Linked DNA regions of Homo sapiens: region 2 is linked to region 1. Evidence: fine-mapped expression QTL. A gene starts in region 1. The other region holds a variant in brackets. All regions are shown on one strand. Distances are between the middles of the regions.

Region 1 (9,705 bases):
TAAAGGTTTTCATCTTCATATTCATCCCCGGCATCCAACCCGAGCTTCTCGTTCTGCCATCGTTTCTGTAGGGGTGGGTGGGGTGGGTGCCTCAGTGAGCAGGGGGAGGTGAATATCTTTCAGACCCTCCTGGATGCCAGGAAGTACTTTTCCAGAAAGGGTAAGAGATGTCCCCAAGGCCACATACTGGTTATGTAACAGTTCTCTCTGAGTCTACAACCAGTGTTCTCCTTCCTTCCTTCCTTCCTTCCTTCCTTCCTTCCTTCCTTCCTTCCTTCCTTCCCTTCCCTTCCTTCCCTCCCTCCCTCTCGCCCTCTCTCTCTCTCTCTCTCTCTCTCTCTCTTTCTCTCTCTCTCTCTTTCTTCTCCCTCAGTTGCCCAGGCTGAAGTGCTGTGGCAACATCATATTTCACTGCAGCCTTGAACTCCTGGGCTCAAGCAATCCTCCCACCTCAGCCTCCTGAGTAGCTGGGACTATAGGTGTGTGCCACCATGCCTGGCTAATTTTTTTTTAAGACTTTGTGTGTGTAGAGATAGGGTCTTGCTGTGTTGCCCAGGCTGGTCTCAAACTTGTGGCCTCAAGTGATCCTCTTGCCTCGGCCTCCCAAGCTAGCGTCTTCTTGAGTCTCCACTCCCTTACTATTCTCCATGAATAATAACAATAACAGTCACACTTTCTGTAGTGCCTAAGGAGAGGCTGGTACAGATCAGAGATTCTGGGAGGACCAGGCCCCACCTTCCCTGGTCTTGGCTACACCTGGAGGGTAACCACACTCCTGGGTGAGGGCAGGAGGGGAGTGAGGACACTCTTAGGGAGAAGAATGAGACTCTTCTTGGGGGGAGGTGGACGTGAGGACAGCCCAGAAGGGGAAACTAAATTGAAGACACCCCCTGGGCTCAGCGCCAGTTCAAGTCCCTTCTTTATATTCATTCATTTAACTCCCACAGCCCCTATATGGTGGGTGCTTTCATTCTCCCAAGTTTTGGATGGGGAACCTCAGGCTCTAGAGGGCTACCTGGGTATTGGGGGTCCCTCGGCCCAGGCCCTCGCCCGGCTGACTCAGAGGTCCGAGGGGGCTCACCCTGAACAGCAGCAGCGTCCCAGGCACCACCGCGCAGAACAGGAGGATGATCCCCTCGGCTGTGATGATTCGGTTCTTGGTGCCCTCCCCCATGTCCAGGAAGGGCCTGGGGGGCGGCTCTGCAAGGAGGTAGTATGGCTCAGAGCCCTGGCCCCTCTTGCCCTCCCTAGCCTCCTGGCCCCGCCCACCTCCTGCAAGGCCCCAGACCCCCCAGAGACCCCACTCTGCAGAGGAGAATGTCCGTCCCTCTGTCCAAGCCGGTTTGAAACCCACATTGAAGGTACTGGCTCTATCCCCACTTCAAAGATAAACCGAGTGTCCCCAGCGGGACAGTGGGAGTAGGGGCCAGGGCTGGGCCACTCACGGCGCACGCGGAGGTAGGTGCCGCAGGACTGCTGGTATGACTCGTTGCCCTCCTGGACCCGGCACACGTATATGCCCCCATGGCTCTTGTTCACATTCTGGATGATCAGCGTACCATTGGGGTCCTCGCCCGGGCCCAAGAACTCAGGGGGCCACGTGTAGTTGCCATGGAGGACGCGCCACCAGGTGACGTTGGCGTTGTTGCTGCTATTGTGCGGGCATTGGAAGTGGGCGTCTTCCCCCAGGCTCACCATCAATGATGCTGGGACCTTGTGCATCCACAGGGCCTGGCACCCAGGGCCTGTGGAGAGACAGGGTGGGTGGGTCAGGGACTGGGGATGGTGACACATTTCCCCAGCCCTGGCCCCTGCAGTTCCAGCACTCCTGGGAAGAGGGTGAGGACTCTCCTGGGTGGGGAGGGAGAGAGAGAGCCCCTGACAGGGGCTGATACATCCTGGGGAGAGGGGGGATGCGGGAAAGTGAAGAAGCCCCTGGGAAGGAGAGAGGACATACCTGGTTGGGGTGGGTGAGGATATCCTGGGAGAGGAGAATGAGACTCCCTGGGATGGTAAGACCCCTGGGAGGCCCTTCTCACCTCTGCAGCGCCATCTCTTGCCCCCCTCCCGCATACCCACTTTGTACTCTGGCCCTGTGAACTCTCTGGATTTTGGATGTTTGTTCCAGGCACTGGAGGACCGCTGTCCAGACAGCTCCTTCCAGAAGCAGTGCAGGCGTCCCCTCCTCCCGCAGCCTTCCCGGTCCATTTTTGCACCCCAGCCTCAGCCAGGCCCAGCACCTGGCGCTTTTTCTTGTGTAATCATTCACAGAACCCTAGAAGTAGGTTCTCTCCTTAGCCCCATTTTACAGGAGGGATGGCTGAGGCTCTGGGAGGGCAGGCGGGTTGCCAGCATCACCAGGCAGTCAGGAGTGGCACTGGGTTCAAACTCTTGGCTCCCTGGCCTCTCCCTGCCTGGGCTGAGGAGCCAGTCTGTGGCCTGCCCTGGCCTGTGACCCTGTGCCTGGCCCTCATTCTCTGTAAGTTGTATGTGTCAACCTAGGGGTCAGGGGTGAGTTCAGTCCTTGGGCTGGGCTGCTGGTGATTGAAGGGGCTCAGAGCGGGGTGGAGACTGGGGGTGTCTCTGAGTGAGACGAGGCGGCTCAGGCTGGCTGCAGTGTCCAATCCGGGCTCCTCTGGGAAGCCCCAGCTCTCAGCCAGGCCTCCCACATGGCCAGTCCCCTCTTCTGGAGGTAGGTGGAGGAGGGAGGTGAGGAAGAGAGAAGGAGGAAGAGATGGGGAGAGGGGCCGAGCACCCTCATCGTCACGGGCTTAAGACTCAGACGTGAACTCCAATCCTTGCTCCCAGTGTCCCCTTGGGTGGGGAACCTTTTTCTCTGAACTCCTGGGTTAGCGTGGCCACAGCCCCTGCCAGCTGTCCTTGAGCAGGTGAGGGGGAGTCCATGAGACACCCATTCCCCCAGTGCTGAGAAGGGACTCCCAACAGAGAGAGGCACCTGAGGTTTAAGGCAGAGAAAGCTTTTTCTCCCCTTGACAGACGCTGAATGCTGCTACCCCTAAGTCCCCTTCCTGCCCCCAGCCCTGGTGCTCAGTCAAGAGCAACTTTAGTTCCTTATTTTGGCCTGTGGGGAACAGGAGGTGGGGGAGGTGACTCTTGCTCCTGCCTCCCTGTGTGAGACTGTGGACGCCCCTTCTCCTTCGCTGGGCTCCCTCCAGCCCCACCTTGGCCCATCTTGGCACAGATACGATTTCTATAGGCATCTTCCCTGGGTCCCCTATCCTCTGCCTCCTCTTCCCCTTTCCCTGAGCCCCCTTCCCTCTGCCTGTGCCCTCTCTGCAGCCTCCACAGCTTCCCCCACCTCCCGCCAGTTCCTGCCCTTTGGCCACATACCCAGGTAGACAGCAGACAGCAGGAAGAGGAGGAAGATGGTGGCAGGCAGAGCTTGGAGGACTCCTGGACCCCCAGGCATCTTCTCCCAGTGGGTTGGTTAGTTTGAGTTGCAGCAGTCCCAGGGTACCAGATCCCTACCCCAAACCCCACCCTACTTCCTGCCCAGCCCCCCGGAGATGGGCTCCAGTGGCCCTCGCTACTGGGCCCTTTGCTTGTTGGGCCTGGGGACAGCCCCTGCCGGGTATGCTTCAGGCTGTGAGTGGAGAGAAACTGCTCCCTGCACCTGTGGTGGCCACAATTCCCCTGAGAGGTGGCTGCTTGGGTGGGGGAAGAGGCTGGTTCAAGGGCTGGCTCGTCACTGCTGAGCCTTTGGAAGGAAGCCTAGGGAACCTGAGTCCTGGGCATGTGTCATGGGCAGGTGATGGTTCTGAGCTTGACCTCTCCCCCTGCCTGGACTTGGGCAAACCTTGTCCCTTCCCTGACCCCATTTCCTTGCTTCTTGGGATTAGAAACAAGGACTTAAAGGGGTTGTCACATGCACAGAAATGGCCCACAGTAGGCGCCCAGTAAATGTTAGTCACTATAAATACTCATGAAGAATAAATAAGGCAGGCTGACCTGTGGCTGACTACCCGTGTGACTAGGTGGGCACTTTGATCCTTCGAAGCTTGACATTTTTCATCTGTGAGATGAGGACCAGAATGTCTCCCTGTCTCATTATGTGATACGAGATGGTGTTCCTGGTATTCAAGGAGTGAGAACCATGATCAGCTCTTTACTGGAATTCTTTTTTTAAAAAAACAGGCCAGCTATGGTGGCTTATGCCTGTAATCCCAGCCCTTTGGGAGGCTGAGACAGGAGAATCACCTGAGGTCGAGTTTGAGACCAGCCTGGCCAACATGGCGAAACCCCATCTCTACTAAAAATACAAAATTAGCCAGATGTTGTGGCACATGCCTATTATTCCAGCTACTCAGGAGGCTGAGGCAGGAGAATCAGTTGAACCCAGGAGGTGGAGGTTGCAGTGAGCTGAGATCACACCATTGCACTCCAGCCTGGGTGACAAAAGCGAAACTCTGTCTCTAATAATAACAATAATAACAACAACAACATATATTTTTCTTCTTTTTTTTTTTTAAGAGGGATGGGATCTTGCTATATTGCCCAGGCTGGTCTTGAACTCCTGGCCTCAAGCAATCCTCCTGCCTCAGCTTCCCAAAGTGCTGGGATTACAGGCATGTGCCACTGTGCACAGCCAGAAGTTGTTTTATATTGACCTGCCATGACTGGCAAGGTAGGCCATCCCCCATTTTACAGAGGGGGAAACCGAGGCCAGAGAGGGGAGGTTGTCACTTGCGGGTGTCATACAGTCTAGGGGTGGTGGACAGAGATTCAAAGTCATCTTTGTGTTGCTCCCAGTTTCCTTTGAGCATGTCTGGTAGGAGGGAAATGAGGTCTGAGTGGGGAGGGCGGAGTTGCTGAGATATTTGTGAGCAGTTAGGGGACCCTCACACACATACAAGGGGATATATAAAATAAATTTATTGCAGGGAGATTTTTGGTAGCAAACATTGAGAAGCAAATGAAAAGTCCATTTGTGGGAGAATGGGTGCATACACTGTGGCAAAGTGAGCCAACAGAATGCTACAGAATAGGGGAAGGTGTCATAAGGCTGTCTCAGAAACAGCACAAACATCAGAAAAAATATCGTAGCATGATACAGTTGACTTGTTTTCAAAAGGCGTCCGCTGCTTAGGGACACACGTTTGTAGCAGAGGTGTAGACCCGTGCAGGGGAGTGGCAAACGCCCAGTTCCTGGGAGGGGTTACCTCTGGGGGACGCCAGGGTTGGGTCTGGGGAGGGACACACAGAGACACAGAGAGCTCATCTTGTCTTGGTTTTATTTCCTGTGTTACTTTTTTTTTTTTTTTTTTTGAGACGGAGTCTCGCTTTGTCACCCAGGCTGAAGTGCAGTGGCGTGATCTTGGCTCACTGCAACCTCTGCCTCCCAGGTTCAAGTGATTCTCCTGCCTCAGCCTCCTCAGTAGCTGGGATTACAGGCGGCCACCACCATGCCTGGCTATATTTTTGTATTTTTAGTAGAGACCAGGTTTCACCATGTTGGGCAGGCTGGTCTCACACTCCTGACCTCAGGTAATCCACCCACCTCAGCCTCCCAAAGTGCTGGGATTACAGGCGGGAGCCACCGTGGCTGGCCACTTTTTTTTTTTTCTTTTTTAGAGATAGGGCCTCTCTCTGTCACCAAGGCTGGTGTCCAGTGGCATAATCATAACGTCAAACTCCTGGGCTCAAGTGATTCTCTTGCCTCAGCTTCCCAAGTAGCTGGGATTACAGGTGCACACACCATGCCTGGCTATTTTTAATTTTTTTTTTCTTTTGAGACAGAGTCTCGCTGTGTAGCCCAGGCTGGAGTGCGATGGTGTGATCTTGGCTCACTGCAACCTCCGCCTCCCGGGTTCAAGTGATTCTCCTGCCTCAGCCTCCTGAGTAGCTGGGACTACAAGCAGATGCCACCATGACCGGCTAATTTTTTGTATTTTTTTAGTAGAGATGGGGTTTCACCGTGTTAGCCAGGATGGTCTCAATCTCCTGACCTGATGATCCACTCGCCTCGGCCTCCCAAAGTGCTGGGATTACAGGCATGATCCACCGCACTGGGCCTATTTTTTAAATTTTTTGTAAAGACAGGGTCTCACTGTGTTGCCCAGGCTGGCCTGGAAGTCCTGACCTCAAGTGATTCTCCCAGCTTGGCCTCCCGAAGTGCTGGGATTATAGGCACTGCACCCTGCCCTGCCTGTGTTACTTAAACTGGGTTGTGCTTCATAGGTTTTTCTTACATTATGAATACTGAATGCTAAATACTTGCATGCCTGAAGTATTTCAGATTTTTTTTTTTGAGATGGAGTCTTGCTCTGTTGCCCAGGCTGAAGTGCAGTGGCGGCACAATCTTGGCTCACTGCAGCCTCCGCCTCCTGGGTTCAAGCTGTTCTCCTGTCTCAGCCTCCCAAGTAGCTGGAATTACAGGTGTGCACCACCATGCCCAGCCAATTTTTTTTTTCATAGACACAGGGTTTCACCATGTTGGCCAGGCTGGTCTCAAACTCTTTTTTTTTTTTTTTTTTGAGACGGTGTTTCACTCTTGTCGCCCAGACTGGAGTACAATGGTGCAATCTTGGCTCACTGTGACCTCCACTTCCTGCATTCAAGCGATTCTCCTGCCTCCACGTCCAGCTAATTTTTGTATTTTTTAGTAGAGACAGGGTTCCATCATGTTGGCCAGGCTGGTCTCGAACTTCTGACCTCAGGTGATCCACCTGCCTCGGCCTCTCCAAGTGTTGGGATTACAGGTGTGAGCCACCACTCCAGGCCAAGGTCTCAAACTCTTGACCTCAAGTGATCTGCCCACCTCTGCCTCCTAGAGTGCAGAATTTTAAAAAAGTGCAATTGCCAGCTGGGCGCGGTGGCTCACGCCTGTAATCCCAACACTTTGGGAGGCTGAGGCGGGCGGATCAGAAGGTCAGGAGATCAAAACCATCCTGGCTAACACAGTGAAACCCCGTCTCTACTAAAAATACAAAAATTAGCCGGGCATGGCGGCGTGTGCCTGTAGTCCCAGCTGCTGGGGAGGCTGAGGCAGAATGGCGTGAACCCAGGAGATGGGAAAAGGGCAATTCCCATCCACGCAGAAGAGCCTGGGCCTCAAGAGTCCAGGATTCTTTTACAACTCAGCTCTGCCAACTGACTGGTCATCTGAAACTCAGTTTTTTCTCCTATAACATGGGTACAAACCCCCCACTTGATAAGACTGCAAGAATATTCTGCAGTGCATTTGGCACAGTATCTAGGACAGTTCTGTAGCCCTGGGAACCAGGACCCCAGGTGTTCTGCTGGGGTCACTAGCCCCTCTGCACTTCAATTCCCCGTTACAACCCCCTCCCAGGAATAAGCCTGGCTCCAGACCTGGAAGCCCTAGGAATTCACCTTCAAGAGCCTTCGGTGGCTGAGCTTCTTTCTAGGCCCTCTACTGCTCCCCAGTGGCTGGAGCGGCGCGGCTGCGGGATTGCAGGCCTGCTCGGGACACCTAGACCTTGCTTCCTACCTGGGAAGCGCAATGCCTGCTGCTGTGCAAACCGGACGCTTGGCATTGAGTTCTCATGTCAGCTCTGGGAAATGTTTTCATTAATGGCCAAAAGAGGAAACTAGAGCCCAGAATGGGGAGTGACTGGCCTGCAGCTAGAGTGCAACCCTTTGGGCCTCTTTTCTGAGGCACAGAGCCCTTGGAGTGGCTAGGTCCAGGCTGCAGCTGGGTTGCTTGGGTTCATATGATGGCTCCAGCTGTGGGATATCTGGCAAGTTACCCAGCCTATGGCTTACTTTACCTACCTCCAAAGCACTTTTCGGCACTTACTTCACAGAGTTGCTGAGTGTAAACAACGGTGCTTTTAACATTTTTATTGATTCTTTTTTTGAAATGGAGTCTCGCTCTGTTGCCCAGGCTGGATTGCAATTGCTCGATCTCAACCCACTGCAACCTCCGCCTCCGGGGTTCGAGCGATTCTTCTGCCTCAGCCTCCTGAGTAGCTGGGATTACAGGTGCGCGCCACCATGCCCAACTAATTTTGGTATTTTTAGAGACAGGGTTTCTCCATGTTGGTCAGGCTGTTCTCAAGCTCCCAACCTCAGGTGATCAGCCCGTCTCGGCCTCCCAAAGTGTTGAGATTACAGGTGTGAGCCACTGTGCCTGGCCGATACTTCTTAAACTCTTACGCCTTACGTTTGGGGACTGCCAACTGAACTGTCCAGCAGCAGAGCTACTCAGAGCCAAGGCTCTCCACGGCATCTTGTCCAGTCTCTCAGGAGTTAGCAGGCTTACACACGAGGAGACGAAGGCTCAGAGGATAAGGTGCACAGGGTTACGTGGGATTAGGGGCAGAGTTGTGATTTAAACTCTAGTTTGAACTTCAAAACCCAGGCTCGCCCCTTTCCAGGAAATGGGTCAGATCCCAGGAATAATTTGGACAGGGGAATCCTGGGAGATATTGGCCAAACCAGTTTAGTCTTCCCAACTGGGAGGGACATCTGGTCACAGCGGGCCCTAAGTTTCTTTCCTGGCTTGCCCCTCCAGGGGTCGGACAGCTGCCCACTGGGTGCTATTTGGATCTCCCAGCCTGACCAGGTGCCCAATCATGGGCGGAGGCCACATCCCACTTGCCGTGCACGACTGCAAAGGTTGTGCAGCCCGTGTGTGGCCGCCCTGGTAATTCAACTTCTGCACAGGGATCTGCTTCCACCGACTTCCTGCCACTGCCACTCAGCGGGCCCAAGACCGCTCAGATGCAGAGTGAAGGCTCAAGGACCATTCAGCCTGTGCAGGCCCCAGGCCCAGGAAAGTTAGTGTGTAGGCAGCACAGGTCAGTTTGCGGTGGAGGCTCCCTGGTGGTCTGTCCTTTTCTACCTTCCAGGGAAGAGCATGAACCCTGGGCCCTCTTGCTTTACTCCAGCGGAAGCCACCTCTGCAGCCCAGGCCCAGCTGAGGTCACAGCTCACAGCCATCCTTTCGTTTCTCACTTTCTGACAATTGCAAAGACAGGATGTGGGGGAGTGAGCCACAAGGGCCCCTGGGTCCTTCCTCCAAACCCAGATGGGAACTGTTTGACCTGGGAAGGCCCGACTGGCTGCCGGGTAAACAGCCACCCAATCACCCTGGGCCCCCTCACCCAAGGGAAGGGAGGAAGCGCCTCTTCCTCATGCCCCTGAAGAACAATCAAGAGACCCAAACCAGACCAGGCACAGTGGCTCACACTTGTAATCCCAGCACTTTGGGAGGCTGAGGCAGGAGAATCATTTGAACCCAGAAGGCGGAGATTGCAGTGAGCTGAGATGGCGCCACTGCACTCCAGCCTGGGCGACAGAGCAAGAGACTCAAAAAAGAGACCCAGACCAGGATTACGAATGAGGCAATTTATTAACCCAGCATGGTTTGTTCTAATGCTTCTTGTTGGCAGCTGCCACCTGTGGGAAAAGATGGAAGAATAAAAGTTAGTCAAGGGGGTCTCTGCTGGGGCACTTTGTAACAGCTACCTAACTACCCACCACAGGTGGGCACCCCGATTTGTGGTTTCAAATGCATCTATCTCATCTAATTCTCACTGTGGGTATTCCCCCATTTCACAGACGTGGAAACTGAGTCTCAAGGGAGTGGCCAGGCACAGTGGCTCACACCTTTAATCCCAGCACTCTGGAAGGCCGAGGCAGGTGGATCACCTGAGGTCAAGAGTTCGAGACCAGCCTGACCAATATGGTGAAACCCTGTCTCTACTAAAAATATAAAAA
Region 2 (10,423 bases), 380 kb before region 1:
GCCTGTAATCCCAGCACTTTTGGAGGCTGAGGCAGGCGGATCACGAGGTCAGGAGATCGAGACCATCCTAGCTAACATGGTGAAAGCCCATCTCTACAAAAAATACAAAAAATTAGCTGGGCGTGGTGGCGGGCCTCTGTAGTCCCAGCTACTTGGGAGGCTGAGGCAGGAGAATGGCGTGAACCCGGGAGGCTGAGTTGCAGTGAGCTGAGATTGCGCCACTGCACTCCAGCCTGGGCGACATGGTGAGACTCCGTCTCAAAAAAAAAAAAAGAAAGAAAGAAACAGGGCTCGGTGGCTCACGCCTGTAATCCCAGCACTTTGGGAGGCTGAGGCAGATCACGAGGTCAGGAGTTCAAGACCAGCCTGTCCAACATGTTGAAACCCCATCTCTACTAAAAATACAAAAATTAGCCGGGCATGGTGGTGGGCACCTGTAATCCCAGCTACTTGGGAGGCTGAGGCAGAAGAATAGGTTGAACCCGGGAGGCGGTGGTTGCAGTGAGCCAAGATTGTGCCACTGCACTCCAGCCTGGGTAATAGAGAAAGACTCTGTCTCGGGGGGGAAGAAAACAGGGTTTTCAGCCAGGCGTGGTGGCGGGTACTTGTAATCGCAGCTACTTGGGAGGCTGAGGCAGAATTGCTTGAACCCAAGAGGTGGAGGTGACAGTGAGCCGAGATCGTGCCAACGCACTCCAGCCTGGGTGACGAAGCGAAATTCCACCTCAAAAAAAAAATAATAAATAAAAAATAAAAAAGCTGGGTGTGGTGGCTCAGGCCTGTAATCTCAGCACTTCAGGAGGCCAAAGAGGGTGGTTACCTGAGGTCAGGAGTTTGAGACCAGCGTGGCAACATGGTGAAACCCTGCCTCTACTAAAAATACAAAAACAAATTAGCTGGGCATGGTGGCGTGCGCCTGTAATCCTAGCTACTCGGGAGTCTGAGGCAGGAGAATCACTTGAACCCAATCTCAGCTCACTGCAACATCTGTCTCCTGGGTTCAATCGATTCTCCTGCCTCAGCCTTCTGAGTAGCTGGGGTTACAGGCACCCGACACCATGTCCAGCTAATTTTTGTAGTTTTAGTAGAGACAGGGTTTCACCATGTTGGCCAGGCTGGACTTGAACTCCTGACCTCAGGTGATCCACCTGCCCACCTCAGCCTCCCAAAGTGCTGGGATTACGGGCATGAGCCACCGCACCTGGCCAATATTTCACCATCTCTACCATCTCTGGGGGTGGGTATCAGTGTTGATAAAGCAATTGGAGTCACATAGGCCACTGAAAGATTACAATATCCATGGACACGTTTGCACAAACCACCAAACTTAAGAGGCCCAGACGACATTTTCACGAGGGACTTTCACTCTCCGCGGATCGTTCAGATTCTCCCACGAGGCATGCCGATCATCCGTGATTGTGTTTCATAGAAACACTGAGTTTGAGCCAACCATCTGGGTCAGAGTGGGATTATGACATTAATACACAATTTCACACTGTCAGTGCAGTGTGCTTTATTTTTTTAAATTTTATTTTTAAGAAAAAATGTCCCTTAACACCTAGGTGATGGGTTGATAGGTGCAGTAAACCACCATGACACACGTTTACCTATGTAACAAACCTGTACGTCCTGCACATGTATCCCAGAACTTAAAATAAAAATTAAAAAAAAAAAAAAGAAGAAAAAGAAAACATAAGCCTGGGCTGCCCTTTGGACACCACGGACACAGATCTGCCAGTAAGAACCATCCTCCCGGCCAGGCTTGGTGGCTCACGCCTGTAATCCCAGCTCTTTGGGAGGCCGAGGTGGGCGGATCACCTGAGGTCAGGAGTTCGAGACCAGCCTGGCCAACATGGAGAAACCCCATCTCTACTAAAAACACAAAATTAGCCGGGCGTGGTGGCGCAAGCCTGTAATCTAGGCTACTCGGGAGGCTGAGGCAGGAGAATTGCTTGAACCTGGGAGGAAGAGGTTGCAGTGAGCTGAGATCCTGCCACTGCACTGCATCCTGGGTGACACAGGGAGACTCCATCTCAAATAAATAAAAAAAAAAATAAATAAATTTTTTGTAGAGAGAGTCTCACTCTGTTGCCCAGGCTGGTCTTGAACTCCTGGCCTCTTGAAATTCTCCTGCTTCGGCCTCCCAAAGTGCTGGGATTACATGTGTCAGACACAAACTGCAGCCAGCCTGTTTATTGCTGTTTACTCTAACTGTTGTTACAGTTGGAGTCTGTAGGGTAGAGTGCTCTTGTTATCCATGGGGCATAGAGTTCACTCTGCTAATAATTATTAACAGTATTTATTGCATACTTACTTTGCATCTCTGATTTTTCTTTTTTTCTTTTTTTTTTTTTTTTAAGACGGAGTATCGCCCTGTCACTCAGGCTGGAGTGCAATGGCATGATCTCGGCTCACTGCAACCTCCGCCTCCCGGGTTCAAATGATTCTCCTGCCTTAGCCTCCTGAGTAGCTAGGATTACAGGCGCCAGCCACCACGCCCAGCTAATTTTTGTATTTTTAATAGAGACGGGTTTTCACCATGTTGGCCAGGATGGTCTGGAACTCCTGACCTCAGGTGATCCACCTGCCTCGGCCTCACAAAGTGCTGGGATTACAGGTGTGAGCCACCTCGCCTGGCCACATCTCTGATTTTTCACAATAACTTGATCATGTAGGATCTATTAACACCTCCATTTTACAAATGAGGAAAATTGAGGCTCAAAGAGGTGAACTTGGCCAGGCGCAGTGGCTCACGCCTGTAATCCCAGCACTTTGGGAGGCCAAGGAGGGCGGATCACGAGGTCAGGAGATCGAGACCATTCTGGCTAACACGGTGAAATCCCGTCTCTACTAAAAATACACAAAATTAGCTGGGCGTGATGGCGGGTGCCTGTAGTCCCAGCTACTCGGGAGGCTGAGGCAGGAGAATGGCGTGAACCCGGGAGGCGGAGCTTACAGTGAGCCGAGATAGCGCCACTGCAGTCTGGCCTGGGCGAAAGAGCGAGACTCCATCTCAAAAAAAAAAAAAAAAAAAAAGAGGTGAACTTCGCTAGGCAGGGTGACTCACACCTGTAATTCCAGCACTCTGGGAGGCCAAGGTGGGCGGATCGTTTGAGCCCAGGAGTTGGAGACTATCCTGGTCAACACAGAGAGACCCCAACTCCACTAAAAATAAAAAAAAATTAGCTGGGTTGGCTGGGCATGGTGGCTCACGCCTGTAATCCCAGCACTTTGGGATGCTGAGGCGGGTGGATCATCTGAGGTCAGGAGTTCAAAACCAGCCTGACCAACATGGAAAAACCCCGTCTCTACTAAAAATACAAATTAGCTGGGCGTGGTGGCGCATGCCTGTAATCCTAGCTACTCGGGAGGCTGAGGCAGGAGAATTGCTTGAACCCAGGAGACGGAGGTTGCGATGTGCCAAGATGGTGTCACTGCACTCCAGCCTGGGCAAGGAGAGCAAAACTGCGTCTCAAAAAAAAAAAAAAAAAAAAAAAGCTGGGCATGGTGGTGGGCGCTTGTAATTCCAGCTACTCAGGAGGCTGAGACAGGAAAATTGCTTGAACCAGGGAGGCAGAGGTTGCAGTGGGCCAAGATCGTGCCATTGCACTTACAGCCTGGGTGACAAGAGCAAAATTCCATCTCAAAAAAAAAAAAAAGTAACTGGGCATGGTGGCATGTGTCTGTAGTCCCAGCTACTCAGGAGGCTGAAGTGGGAGAATTGCTTGAGGCAGGGAAGTCGAGGCTGTAGTGAGCCATTATTGTGCCACTGCAATCCAGCCTGGGCAACACAGTGAGACCCCCATCTCAAAAAAAAAAAAAAAAAAAAAAAGAGGTGAACTGAGTTCACTTGCCTTGTCAGAGACAAGAAGTAGCAAAGGTTGGGTGTAACAGCCAGGTGTGGTGGCTCACACATGTAATCCCAGCACTTTGGGAGGCTGAGGCTGGCGGATCACGAGGTCAGAAGATTGAGACCATCCTGGCTAACACGGTGAAACCCTGTCTCTACTAAAAATACAAAAGATTAGCCGGGCGTGGTGGGGGGCGCCTGTAGTCCCAGCTACTCAGTAGGCTGAGGCAGGAGAATGGCGTGAACCCGGGAGGCGGAGCTTGCAGTGAGCCGAGATGGGGCCACTGCACTCCACCCTGGACGACAGAGTGAGACTCCGTCTCAAAAAAAAAAAAAAAAGGTTGGGTGTAACTCATCTCTGTCTTGCTGGTGGGAGGGTAGGGGTCACTGGGTTTGTTACTGATGTGTTATCTTTTTGTTTGTTTGTTTGTTTTGAAACTGAGTTTCGCTCTTGTTGCCCAGGCTGGAGTGCAATGGCGCGATCTCAGCTCACCGCAACCAACCCCCTCCCGGGTTCAAGCGATTCTACCTTAGCCTCCCGAGCAGCTGGGATTACAGACATGCACCACCAAGCCCGGCTAATTTTTTGTATTTTTAGTAGGGACGGGGTTTCTCCATGTTGGTCAGGCTGGTCTCGAACTACAGACCTCAGGTGATCCACCTGCCTCGGCCTCCCAAAGTGCTGGGATTACAGGCGTGAGCTACCGCGCCCAGCCTTTTTATTTATTTATTTTTAGACGGAGTTTTGCTGTTACCCAGGGTGGAGTGCAGCGGAGCGATCTCGGCTCACTACAGCCTCCGCCTCCTGGATTCAAGCGATCCTCCTGGGTTCAAGCGATTCTCCTGCCTCAGCCTCCTGAGTAGCCGGGATTACAGGTGCGCCACCACGCCTGGCAAATTTCTGTACTTTTAGTAGAGATGGGGTTTCACCATGTTGGCCAGGCTGGTCTGGAACTTCTGACCTGAAGTGATCTCCCGCCTCGGCTCCCAAAGTGCTAGGTTTACAGGCGTGCGCCACTGCGCCGGGCCCTGATGTAGTATCTTTGAAAATCTGCATTTTTTTTTTTTT[G/TG]GAGGGGGTAGTAAAAGAGGTAATAAAGCATAATGGTAAAGGGTAAATGTGGTGGTTTGGAATTGGTTAGATCTGGGTTCGAATCTTAGTTCCAATACTTCCTGGCTGTAAGATTTAGTGGACTGATTTTCCCTCAGAGAGCATCACTTTCTTTATCTGTAAATGGGGATAACAGCAGTAATTCCCCTCGTTGGGATTTTGTGAGGATTAAATGAGAAGATGCCCCTGACAATGCTTGGCCCGGTGCCTGGCACATCATGAACACTCGGAATTCGGGAGCTGTTATTCGAACAATGAAGATGATTATTATTGCTGGACCACACCGCTCCCAGAGGGTTACAATATCCGTGGGGGAGCTGTACTGTCCGTAGGCAAGGTTACATAATTCCCGGGGGTTGTGGGGGAAAGCTTCCCTGGAGCCCTTGGTCTCCCCAAGGAGGAGGCCTGAGACTTTTTTTTTTAGGCACTGGTGAGGAGCCTGTCTAAGGTGGACTAGGTACCCCGCAAGCGAGGAGGCTGGGATTGAAGCCCTGGGTACCGGGAGCCTGAGCTCCGCAGGCCTTCCCTATCTGTGACTTTTCTGTCTCCCCGCCCATCTTCTGGATTCGTCCCCCACCCAGCCCCCCCAACTCCCGCCCGCCACCCATACGCCCCTCCTTCGGAACCTCAGAGTCTTTTTTGAGACTCTGTTTCCAGGCTATGCCTGTGAATATTGCTTCTATTTGGCCTCTACCCTGCTGCCGGCTCCTGGGCTCCATCAGATCTGCGCTGTGATTTCCTGTTTCCCAGAGCCTCAGGCTTCATCCTTCCCTCCCGGCTGAGGCAGAGAACGGAGACTTAACACTTCTCTACGCTCTGGCTTTCGATCTTAAGCCCTGTCTTCCTCTCTCCTGGCGACCCTCAGTGCCCCTTGGGAGCACATTTGTTCAGACTTTGGTCGCCCCCTCGTATCCCGGCCCCGCCTCCGGAACCCCCGGTCCTAGTAGTGGACGTGGGGGGACCTCCGGCGCCAGCCCTATCCCCGGGACAGCTGCAGCCTGGGGACGGTGGTGGTGGGGGCTTCCAAATGCATTCTCTCTGGTCACTTCCTCCCCAGCTGGACGGGGGTTATCAGGGAAGCCAAGACCCCATCCCCACAGGAGCGGAGGGCACAGCCGCCTCCCCATTTCCGATGCTGGGAAATGCATCCCACCCATTCCACCCCACCCCTGGACAGCTGCCCCCATTCAGGCTCAGGGTTGGGGGGTTGGGTAAAACCAAGCTGGGAAATGCTGTGGTCTTCATCATCTTCTAAGGTCCTGACCCCGCCCCTCTGCAGAGAAGATTCTGCCCCCTCCCCACAAAAGTTTCTGACCCCCGCTTCCTCGGAAGGGCCCCCCGTTTTCCCATACAGGCTCCCAAAAGAAACTCTGGAGCCCGCAGTGGGCAGGAGAGGAGGAGGGGCAGCAGGTAGCGAGTGCCGAAGACTTAAGTTAGCTGCAGACTCGGAGCCTCTGACTAGGGTCATGACCCGCGGGACCCCATCCCACCCCCACCCCCTCCTTCCTCCCTCCCCCGCCGCGCGGCCCCTTTAAGCCCAGAGCCGGCCGGTCCTCAGTGGCTGCGCGCCGACGAGCGTGTGTGTGAGTGCGCGGGGAGGGGGCGGGCGCAGTGTCTCCATGGCGACGCGGCGGTGACGTCGCCGGCCGGGGGGCGTGGGCGTCCCGGCCCCGGAGTGCGATATTAACCCGGGAGGCGGCGGCGGGGAGGGGAGAGGCTCTGAGAGGCGAGGCCGGGTGAGGCGGCGAGGGCGGCCCGACGGGCGCGGGACGGGACGGGGCAGCGAGGGCGCCGGGAGCCGCGGCCCGGAATCGGGGCGCTTCGCCCCGGGCCCCCCAGCATGAAGACCCCGGCGGACACAGGTGGGGGCGGGGGCAGCACGTGTGGGGGAGACTTGTTGCCCCGGGAAACCGAACGGAGAAACTTTGGGGGGGCTGAAGGGGTCCGGGGGAGCCCGAGTGATCCCCAGTTCTGGGGGACCCCTCAAGCACTGGAGACCTGTTGCTTCTCGTGGCGCGAGCGGGGTTGCTGCCTGGGACCCCCGATTCCTGGCTCCGGGCGGAGTGGTGTGGGTGCTGCGGGTCTTGGTCCTGTATCCCTACCGGGACCCCGCAGGCCGGGCTCTCCCCCACTCCCGGGATCACGGGGGTGGCGGGGTCCTTCCCCTCCGCTCTTGTCACGTTGCACTCTGGGGGCCGGGACGTGTGCGGGGCGGGGGGGCTCGTCCACCGGGCCCGCTATCCCTGGTTCTGCGCTGCGCGGTCCTGCTGGTGACCTTCACGGCGGCGCGTGCCCTGCACCAGGTTAGCGGGGGATACGGGATGGCCTCTAGGAGGAGGGCGTGAGTGGGGAGCCCGGGACTCGGGGTCCTGGCTGCGCCGCCCCTCCCCCGCCCGCCTCTGTCGGCTCCTCGCTCCCCCGCCCTCGCCGAGTCGCAAAGTTCCAAAGCGCAGCCCGAACGTTCGAAAAAGGAACTTTTTGTTTCCGACCTTAGAACGCGCGGCTTTAAGGTGGCTCCGGGGAGACCTGGGTACCCTCCTCCCGCGCCACCGGTGGCCCGGGGTTGAGGAGGGTGGGGAAGGTGGGGGGAGACGCAGAGGCTCCCCCCTCGCCCCCCCTCCCGGATCCACCTCTTCTCTTTCAGCGGGCCGTCTCTTCCCTCCGCCCCTCTCTTCCCCGCCAACTTGCTCCTCCTTAAGGGGCCAAGGTTCCCCTCCCCCTCGGTCGGCGGGCGGGGGGCAGCGGGATTAACTCCCCCTCCCACTCGGACTTTTCCCCCTCCCCTCCCCCGCCGCCCCCGGGCTCGCGCGGGCTGGACTTTGCGCCCGAGCGCGCAGGGGGAGGGGTCCCAGCCGCCCCCTGCCCGTCTACCCCGTCGGAATCCGGCCCGGGGCGGGGACGGGGGAGGGGGAAGGGGGCCGGGCGCCGCTGTTCAAACTTGTTTCCTTCCCCCGGCGGCGGCGGCGGCGGCGGCGGCGGCTCGGGCTCCTGTGTGCGGGTGTGTGCCCCGACCGGCCCACCCACCCCACCCCATCCCCACCCCATTCCCACCCCATTCCCATCCCCATCCCCCTGCTCGGCGGGTGGGGGCGGCTTAATCTTAAAGGGCTCCGAGCTGGGATCCGGCGCCAGGGGATTGGGACCCGGACCGAGGAGGGGCCCTGGGGGTGGGGCCGGGGTGCGGAGTGCGGTAGGGTCAGTCACGTGCGTCCTACACACTCCCCCGGCTTCCACTCGCTCCCGGGTGGCTGGGCCCTGGGGGCAGCAGGAGCCTACCCTCGCCCAAGGAGGAGGCCGAGGCACCCAGACAACCTCGCTTCATCTTCTCTCCCTGCTACCGGCCTTGGCCTGATAGGATCCGCGGGTCGCTTCCCCAACCCTGTCGGGGGGCGGGACAGTGTGTGGGTTTTCCGGCTGGGGGAGGGGAGGGGAAGGAGGCCTGGAATGGCCTCCGATCGGTGCATCTTTCCCGTCTGCCTCCTGGCCTGCCGCTCCGCACCCCTCCATCCAGTTCTCCATCCCGGTCCCTCTCTCTGCCGTGGCTGTTTCCCACTTCCTGTTTTCTTCCCGGCTCTGGCGCCATAGAGGGCCGCCTGGAGTGGGGGAGGTGGTGGGGCCCCCCAGGAGGCCGGCGTGTTCTTCCTCTGCCACCACTCCTCCCTTCCGACCCTCATAGTCCCTTAAAAAAAGTTTGGGCCGTCACGTGAGGTTGGGGGGTGCCCAGGAGTTTTGTCCCCCCAGGCTTGCATAGTCTGTCTGGGAGAATCCCTACCCCGCCTCTGTGGGACCCAGGTGTGCTTCTGGGACCTCGCCATCCCAGCCCTTGCTGTCTGACTGCTGCCACTTCTGCACTCTGTCTCGCAGTCTCCTGAACCCCTCTCTCCATGTGCCTGCTCTCTCCCTGCCTCACTGGCCCCCATGTTCCCGAGGTCCCGCACCCCCAAGCTTCCTCCGTGCAGGTCTGGTGTTTCCCTGTTTTAAGCACGTGGACGCATACACAGCACACTCACACATGCTCCCCTTGCCCGTGCCTGGCTCCTGGCTCCAAGGCCTGGGGAACAGAGCCCCATTGAGACACCCTGACGTCACCCCCTCTTCATTCTCCCCCCCCCAAAGCCGGGAACAGGCCTTCATGTATGCTGTGTCCGATGAGGAAAGCCGCCGTTGTGGTGGGCTTGGGAGTGGGGAAGGGTCCCTGCCAGAAGTGGGAGCCAGGGTCCAGGCCCTGGAGGAGGGGTTGCTCAGGGAAGGGGTTTAACAAGGGGGCCTGGGACAGCTCCCAGAATGCGGCTTGAGGCCTTTCCAGAGCCCCCCCACCTCCTTTCCGAGTTCCCTTTGTGTTGCATGTAGTCTCTCTCACTCCCTCTCTTCTGCAAAGTTTATTTTTAGCCTCCTGCTCCCCCGCTCCCAGGACTGTCGCTGCACACACGTTGCCTGGTTACCGGGACACGGAGGCTGGGGCGGGTGGGCTGGGAAGGGTGGCTTTAATTTTGGGGGGAGGGTGGAAGTCAGTACATCCCCCACCCCCAGATTGATGTCTCAGGGGCTTTGGCCCCCCTTCTAGGTCTAGAGCCAGATTGGGGCTGAGGTGGAAGTAACATGGAGCTTGGTTCCCTGAGAGGGGCTGGGAGCTTTTTGGAGGGGATATGAGGGTCCATGAAGCTGGTGGCTGGGTCACCTGGGTTCCAAAGGACCCTGGGCCTTGCAGGAGACCTTGTGATCTGGATTCTCTAGAAGGGTGAGGATAATGGGTTGAACACCTAGATTCCCAAGAGAGCGATGGTGCTCTGGGGTCTCTGGAAGGGGTTGTCAAAGGCTGTCACTTTTAAATGGAACAGGGGCTGTTGGTGCTGGTCTGTGAACAGCTGGAGGTCATATCCCTGGCACCCTGAGGGGCTGGTGGAAGGCTGGGATATATCTGAATGGGGCAGGGACTCCGGGGGCTATGTGGTACTGCAGCCCAGTCTGGGCAGGAGTTGGGGGCCTACAGTGAGCTCTGGATTTGGAGGGGGTGGTCCCTGTGGGAGCAGGAACTACTGATTCCCTGGATTCCCAAGGGGAAGGATCCCTTGTTGGATTCCAGACTTGGGTGGAGTCTTTGAGGGTGGATGTGTTGCCTGGAGGCCTTGTTGGTACCTGTTTGAGCTGGGGCCAAGGGAGGCGGATTGACCCCTGCAGCCTGACTGGATTTGGGAGCCGCCCATCTTTAGCTGGCCACCTTGGCCTTCTCTCTCTAGTGGCACCAGGGACCCTGCTCTGCCTCCCCACTCCTTCCCTTCCTCCCCTTTCCCTCCTCCCACCCCTCCATTACCGGCTGCCTGGTGCTGAATTATTGATGGCCCCTGTTGTTGGGAAATGACAACAACCGCAGTCCCCCCACCCCCCACCCCCCACCCCAGGCTGCCCACCCCCTCCAGAGACCAGCCAGCCCACCGCCAACCTCTACCCAAGGTTAATGCTGGGGG

Which allele goes with the higher level. Positions count from the first base shown, and alleles are read on the strand shown. Sizes are in standard deviations (SD) of each study's normalised expression.
In carriers of allele G in region 2, the expression in lymphoblastoid cells of the gene that starts at base 3,456 in region 1 tends to be lower than with TG alone (large effect, 1.0 SD a copy in GEUVADIS).

What was found. PIP is the estimated chance that this variant, and not a neighbour inherited with it, causes the effect.
Region 2: its variant is fine-mapped to the expression of CD79A in lymphoblastoid cells (GEUVADIS, PIP 0.95).

The regions. Positions count from the first base shown.
Region 1 is chr19:41,871,030-41,880,734 of GRCh38, reverse strand. It overlaps CD79A (CD79a molecule), which reads right to left and starts at 3,456. Exons shown (of 5, transcript NM_001783.4): 1 at 3,352-3,456; 2 at 1,446-1,745; 3 at 1,082-1,200; 4 at 1-65. The coding sequence starts at 3,430. RPS19 (ribosomal protein S19) reads right to left here. Exons shown (of 6, transcript NM_001022.4): 6 at 7,810-9,384. The coding sequence ends at 9,358. RefSeq lists a silencer at 3,255-3,314 and enhancers at 4,722-4,791, 7,127-7,376, 8,690-8,949, 9,190-9,259.
Region 2 is chr19:42,251,375-42,261,797 of GRCh38, reverse strand. It overlaps ERF (ETS2 repressor factor), which reads left to right and starts at 6,670. Exons shown (of 4, transcript NM_006494.4): 1 at 6,670-6,820. The coding sequence starts at 6,799. RefSeq lists silencers at 2,985-3,185, 6,469-6,868, 6,879-7,568, 7,649-7,718, 7,809-7,928 and 2 more and enhancers at 3,004-3,824, 3,825-4,646, 5,442-5,973, 6,614-7,113. The variant G/TG (reference allele first, on the strand shown) is at 4,920.